2 linked regions of the Homo sapiens genome follow. The protein of the gene in region 2 interacts with the protein of the main gene of each other region in a biochemical or structural test. Each region holds a gene or a part of one and is shown on either strand. Other genes may lie near its edges. The genes, in order: CEP152 and ASB7.

Region 1 (3,821 bases), about 52 Mb from region 2:
GCCTTAATTCTACCACCAGCCACATGAGCAATGGTCAACTGACCCTATTCCTTGCTTCCTGTTAATACTCATGGTCCACAATAACTATTAAAAAAGACTTTTTTACATGTTAGAAAATGGGTCATATAAAAAATAGCGTCAGGACAAAAGAAGCCTTTTATCACAGACAATCAAGAAATTTGACTTACACTAAAAACAACCAAAACAACTAAATTGACTTCCACCAATAACACTATTACTGCTGCTATTACTATTGCCACCATTTACTGAACATTTGCTATGTGCCAAGAATTCTGCTAAACACTTTACATATAAATAATATGGTCTCTCCCTTTTATTCCTTTCCTTCTATAATCTATTCACCATGCAGCCTTCTGAAAGATCTTCAAAAATATGATATCAATTTTCCCTGCTTAAAATCCTCCACTGGCTTCCCATTGTTCTTAGAATAAAATACAAACACCTTATCATGGCTTTCCATGATCTGACACCCACATCCACCACCCAACACTGGCTCATATATACCCAATACCATGGCCTTCTGGCCGCTCCACATGATCTGTGGCATACACGGGGTCTCTTCCCAACTTCCCAGCTTACACTCATTGGTGTTTTGGCGTAGACTGCTCTTCCTCAGGCTTCTGCATGGCTGGTTCCTTCTCATGAGTCAAGTCTCAGCTCATATATTGCCTCCTCCCACAGACCCTCCCTCACCACCCCATCTACAGCAATCCCCTATCAATTGCTTTCATAGCACTCCAATTTGTTTCCCTGTCATTTATCAATGATAAATTATCACTCACTCAAATTACTTTACTCACTTGTTTACTTGTTTATTGTCTGCCTCCACTAGGATGTAAACTACCCAAAGCAAAGAGCCTTGTCAGACTTGTTCATGGCAATGTTTCAAGCACCTAGAAACTAACCTTCCACTTCCAAAGCCAACCATTACCTCCTAAATGAAAAGAAAAATTTAACCATTTATCTGATGGTATTATTCACAGTTGTGTTTTATTCCTGTCTCAAAAACAGAAGCATTCCACTTATTCACCTTTTCAGTCTAAATAGCAAGCAGATTTTAGGGTTGTTTTTTTTTTAAAAAATCCAAATCCCTTCAAAATGACACAAGATGATACAATTTTGATCAAGAAATAAAACTTGTTAAAGATTGGGTTTAGTGTCTCTTTTTTTTTTTTTTTTTAACAACTTACCTCTTTCTCTCTTTCATAGTCCTCTTCGTCATACTCTTCATCTTCATTTTGCACTGGTAGTGCCACACTGCCAAAGTCTAATGACATGGTCCTCCTGTGGGAAGGGAAAGATGTTTGGTTTCTGGACACCACATAAAATCTCCCCAGGACAAACTACATAAGAGATGCCATACATACACAAAGTGAAAAGACAGAAACAGACTGGGAGAAAATATGTATAACTCAGTTATGGCCAATAAAAATAATGGTGATTCACCGAAAATAGCTATATGACAGCAATTCATGGAAAAGAAAACATGCAAATAGGTAATAAAGCTATGAATAGACCTTTCTAGTGGTCTGAAGAGTATAAAACAGTAAGATTTTTGCCGACATGAAAAATAAGATGACAATAATAATAAACTAGAAATGTGCCAAATGTAAAAATCTTAAGCTCAAACAAAACTTCAAATGTGATATATTAAACATGGCACAGGCAGTACCCTATTGCTTCATTTTTTTTTAATATCAGAAATCCAAATATCATGCTTTACAAGAAGAAGGCCCCTAAATCATGAGTGAATGACTACTACCCAGAAACCATTTACAATTCAGTCAATGCCATAGAGTGCACAACAAAATATAAGTCTTAAATGTCCTCCTCTTAAGCTTGATAAAATCAGGTTCTGGCAATATACTCGGGAAAAACAGAAGTGAAGGCTGTGAAGCTCCACCACTGTGGACTTCCAATTCCAAAAGCAACAGCAAGAGTTCCCTGGGGAGCAGTGACTGCTGCGGCAGAAGCAGCAGCAGGAAATGGGTTTTCAACTACTTACATTCAAAAAAGCTGCTGCTGATTTAACTTGTACTTAGGGATCCTGACACTATACATAAACTCCTCAGAACTTCAAAGCTCTGAACAATCACAACAAAAAAGTAGGCAGGTGTCATCAATTACCTGGCCTAACACTGCCCTCCATTCAGTCCACTGTTGTTCATGCCAATGAAACGCACTTGGATGTGAGCCTGAGCCACAACTCATTCACTACACCTTTCAAGCTCTAAAATGTCATTAAATTGGAAGTAAAATCAGAAGCATGGAGACCCAGCAATCCAAATGCATTTTACCATAGAGAACTTAGCTCCCTCGTCTTAACAGATACGAACTATATCACAAACTTTTGTGGAAGCCAATAGCTCTAGAGCAGACAATATCCCATTTCATCAGATCTAAGATGTCTTTGATTCTATGATGCAGTTCCATTTGTAGCAGTAGGAACGAGATGTAGCCAATCAAATTATGACATAACATTAATTTTAGGACGCAGTCTATGTTGTAGATATTAAAGTGTGAAAAGAAAATATGCAAGCTAGAATAGATGAATATGGTATTAAAGATTAACATACATATGAACTTCAGTGGTAAAAATCCCCCTATGACAAGTTTTTGTTTTTCAAAGACTGAGTTATGTTTCTTGGCCAACCTCTAATTTGCAGTCTACCTTCTAATCCCTTCCTCTCTGGTCCCTACACCCAACCCGTCCCTTTAAACTCATATCAACTCAGACTATACCTCAACTTAAAACCCTCCAGCCTCTGCTTCTCAGACCACACCTATTCCTTTCTACCCTTGTGACAGGGCTAAACGGGGGAAGAGACATGCATATCGAGGAAAATAAATCTATCTATAAGAATCCTTTTGTATGTCAACATAAGATGAAGATATGAATATGATAAAAAGCCTGTAACATGAAATGGTGAGGGAAAAACACACAATCTCATGTCTCTAGATTTTTTTCCACTATGCAAATAGACTTAATATTCTACAGAACACTATATATATTGAAAATACTAGCCCAATTAAATCCTATGTCCTTAAAAGAGATGCCTGTAGTCCCAGCTACTCGGGAGGCTGAGGAAGGAGAAGGGCGTGAACCCGGGAAGCGGAGCTTGCAGTGAGCCGAGATTGCGCCACTGCAGTCCGCAGTCCGGCCTGGGCGACAGAGCGAGACTCCGTCTCAAAAAAAAAAAAAAAAAAGAGATGAAATTAAGCTGGACCTTAAAGAAATTCCTGAATCCTCCAGGCAGAAAAAATCCTTTCTGTTTCTGAATTCTGTGTCTTCTACCTTTCTTTCATTCAAATATAAATACAAGACGAAATATGGAATTTGGGTTACTTTCTCCTTCATTAAGTTAGAGAAGAGAGGTTTGTTCCCATCCTTTATTAACCTGCCATCAACTGATGTTGATTATTGAAAAAGAACATTAAGATTTATAAGAGCCTATTGCTAAAAATGTAGCTACTAATATTTTAAATAGACAGCTACTTTTTCTCAGATAGAGAATACTTAGGGTTTTGTTTTTAAAGAGAATGTAAAATATCAAAGTATATATCTTTAATGTTATTTTAAATTCAAAACATGTCATTAAAGAAGACATCTAAAAATACCTGAAAAGACCAAAATCTCCCCCACTGAAGAAGGTATAAGTTTTCCTTATCAGAACTATAAACTATAAAAGACTTTAAGAAATGATTTCAGACATAAAGGGAAACCTGATCAACTTAATGTGGTTAAAAATATATATAGTAAAAAGGTAATACATATTTTAAATGAGACTTAAAATAAAAGC
Region 2 (3,821 bases):
TCAGGGAAAAGAATCCATTCATAAAACTGATCTTTTAAACAATCTGGTTTTAAACAAAAAGGCACACTTATAGCAAATCTTCACAAAGGAGAGAGAATAATATGTTGAGTATTAACAGAAGAGAAGCATTAAAAATTACAAATAGACACATTTTAAACTAAACATCATTTATGTTTCTCCATGGGGAAAAAGATTTGCTTCTACAAAACTCACCTCCGTGTTCTAGAAAAACCCGAACACATCTTTCCTTTCCTCTTGCTGCAGAGAAATGAAGCAGAGTCCAGCCATTCGCATCTCGGCCATTCGGGGAATAGCCTTGTTCTAGCATCTTTCGCACTGTGTGGACATCCCCAGCAGCCACCGCGGCCTGAATCTGCAACTCTTCCTGGAGCTCAGGGTTCCTTCGACAATGATGGTGTAACATCCTAGCTGAGTCCACTTTTTACAAAGGATTCATTAGGTTACGGGGATCAGCCTTTAAGAAGAGAAGGTAGAAAAGGTAAAATTTAGAATAACTGGTTCCTGATACTGCATCTATTAAATATCACAGAACATTCCATTTGCTACATCAGTAAACCTTACTAATGACAGTGCATACTACTAGCTGGGTGTGGTGGTGCAAGCCTATAGTCCCAGCAACTCAGGAGGCTGAGGTGGGAGGATCACCTGAGCCCAGGGGATCAGTCCCAGCTACTTGGGAGGCTGAGGTGGGAGGACGACCTGAACCCAGGAGATCAAAGCGGCAGTGAGCCATGATAGCAACACTGCACTCCAGCCTGGACCACAGGGCAAGACCCCATCTCAAAAAAAAAAAAAAAAAAGTAGCAATATATTTTAAAACCTTAAGAATCTAAACAATCAGGCCAAGCACAGTGGCTCACGCCTACAGTCTTAGCACTTTGGGAGGCCAAGGCAGGCAGATCACTTGAGGCCAGGAGTTTGAGACCAGCCTGGCCAACATAGTGAAACCCTGTCTCTACCAAAAATACAAAAATTAGCCGGGTGTGGTGGCACATGTCTGTAATCCCAGCTATTTGGGTGGCTGAGGCACAAGAATTGCTTGAACCCGGGAGGTGGAGGTTTCATTGAGCTGAGATTGCGCCACTGCACTCCAGCCTGGGCAAGAGAGTGAAATTCTGTCTCAAAAAAAAAAAAAGAATCGAAACAATCTGGTGATTAACCACATGATCAAATTACTAAAAGGAAAAGTAGTACAGTGAATTCTCATACTCTCTAATAGGTCACAAAAAAGGACTGTACTAAAACCCAACATACAATGAAATATCTGGCCAGGCACAGTGGCTCACGTTTGTAATCCCAGCACTTTGGGAGGCCAAGGAAAAAGGGACCACTTGAGCCCAGGAGTTCAAGACCAACCTGGACAACACAGTGAGACCCTGTCTCTACAAAAAAATACAAAATTAAAAAATTAGCCAGGCATGGTAGTGTGCACCTGTAGTCCCAGCTACTCGGCAGGTAGAAGCAGGAGGATCACTTGAGCTTGGGAGGTTGAGGCTGCAGTGAGCTGTGATTGTGCCACTGCACTCCAGCCTGGGATACAGAGCAAGACCCTGTCTCAAAAATTAAAATAAGAAAGTAAAATGAGACCTCCTTCATGGAAACAGTAACAGTCCAAAGTGAAATGGTAAAAAGTTGCATCTTACATGTGTGTATACAAAAACATTTTTAGTGTGTTTTTAAGCTTTTAACTACATACAGAAAACTAACAAGCTTCCAGAAAGCCACTCCAGGTGTGCTAACTGGAAGGAATAGATTAGACTCATCTCTTAACTAGTAGTCCCTTTGTTTCTAAACATTTTTTAAACTGTGATGAAGCCCTTTAAAGACATTTCTGTTCTCATATGTAGGTTAGACATATCAGGATAATCTTGCTACCAACAATCGTTTATCTTGCAAAACTTACTATAGACTGTACAAAAGTAAACTTAGGCCTAGGTTAAGTCAAATCATTACAACTTAAGAATACAAATATCCTATGTTGTTTTATACATAGAAAATGGTGTCATTACCTACTCCTAAGTATCACAACTAAGTGCTCAAATTTAAAAATATCAAGCTACTTCTACAAATAGCTATTTCCTCAGAGAAATATGGGAATAAACAAGATTGCCTCTTTTTTTTTTTTGAGACGGAGTCTTGCTCTGTCACCCAGGTTGGAGTGCAGTGGCGCGATCTGAGCTCACTGCAACCTCCACCTCCCGGGTTCACACCTTTCTCCTGCCTCAGCCTCCCAAGTAGCTGGGACTACAGGCGCCTGCCACCACGCCCGGCTAATTTTTTTGTATTTTTAGTAGAGACGGGGTTTCACCGTGTTAGCCAGGATGGTCTCGATCTCCTGACCTCGTGATCCACCAGCCTCGGCCTCCCAAAGTGCTAGGATTACAGGCGTGAGCCACTGCGCCCGGCCACAAGATTGCCTCTTATTTCTTCTCTCAATTCCTTCACAAAAATTGTCCCTTCTTAGAAATTTTAAAATGAGAATCCTTTCAGAATAGGTTTTTGCTTATTCTGTTATGAGAGAAAATGCTGAAGACCGTCTGAAGGAATTAATGGAAACATACTATGCTCACAATCATCCTTAACAGCTTTTCTTTTTAATTAAGTGATTATGTTGGCACTTAAACGAGGCCTACCATGCAAGAAAAAGACTGAAACAATATCAAAACAAACCTGGGTTTTCTTTAGTGAGTGGTGTATTTAGTATACATTAACTGATTTAAGAGAGAAGTAAAAGTTAAGTGAGCTTTCCCCCGGAACAACACAGATGACCAATGACCCTGAGGCAACTTGCCTTATGGAAGAGTGTCCCTTCTCCTGATGTACGGATTGCCTAGTAACCATTGTGCACGTACAGCATCGTGGGGAGGGGCTTCAAAGTACGTCCAGGCTACAGAGCAAAAAAGCCTTCTTAACCTAGAAACAAATAAAAATAACAATCATAGGAAAATTCCTTAAAATAATAATCATAGCTGTCTGCATAGTCTACCTTTTGATGAATGTAAACTTCAGTGCTTTACAATAAATCTATAGAGCAGAGAAAGAACTCAGATCAACTCTTACAGAAAATAATCTTGTTACATATGTTCATCTCCAATAAATACTATTTAGTTTCAGGCTTTTCCCCCCAAAATGCAGCTATTTGAGAAAGAGCAAATAAAAAAAATAATAAATCACATATTTGGAATTTGGATGCAAGCATAGATTCTTCATTTTCCTCTATTGAGAATACAGTTTCAGACTTGCTTTATCTGAATTACTTTTTAACCGACACCATAAGTCACCTGCACTTTCTAAACAGGACTTAAATGAGAATACGTGTGCATGAAATATAATAGGTGGCCTGGGTTAAAATAAAATCTATGACAACTAAAAGGAGACTGTGTCTTTAAATGCATTTTCTTCATGTGCCCTAAAGGCATCAAGTCAATCACTTTGAAATTGTTATTCCTTTATGCATACACCGAACTAGATAAAACATTAACAACAGCCTTGCCAGGTTCCCCATGTGAATTCTGAATAAACTCTCTCCACAACTAAAAGAAAAGGGATCTTTCTTCGTGTCAATTAAATTCCAGCTCTGTTAATTCCAACAAAGTTAAGGACACAAAGTGACTTCCACATAAAACTCTAGGAATTACATATTGGGAGAACTACTACCTCATCCCCTGACGGTGGGTGAGCATCACTTAAACCTTCAGACAAGAAAAGGTCGGGCCACTTAGCAACCTGGCCCGCAGCAGTTGTATGTCCTGCTGGCTGCACACCAGAATTTTCAACCAATCCAAATTGGTATAGTCCAC

What was found.
Region 1: the proteins of ASB7 (region 2) and CEP152 interact in a test that uses a peptide from one of them, tested with the Homo sapiens proteins (one study listed by BioGRID).

Annotation. Positions count from the first base shown.
Region 1 is NC_000015.10:48,804,352-48,808,172, forward strand, and holds part of CEP152 (centrosomal protein of 152 kDa), read right to left. Parts: intron 1,306-3,821; 5' UTR 1,299-1,305; coding exon 1,212-1,298; intron 1-1,211. UniProt on the Homo sapiens protein: Necessary for centrosome duplication; the function also seems to involve CEP63, CDK5RAP2 and WDR62 through a stepwise assembled complex at the centrosome that recruits CDK2 required for centriole duplication.
Region 2 is NC_000015.10:100,608,820-100,612,640, reverse strand, and holds part of ASB7 (ankyrin repeat and SOCS box protein 7), read right to left. Parts: intron 2,935-3,821; 5' UTR 2,813-2,934; intron 476-2,812; 5' UTR 425-475; coding exon 214-424; intron 1-213. UniProt on the Homo sapiens protein: Probable substrate-recognition component of a SCF-like ECS (Elongin-Cullin-SOCS-box protein) E3 ubiquitin-protein ligase complex which mediates the ubiquitination and subsequent proteasomal degradation of target proteins.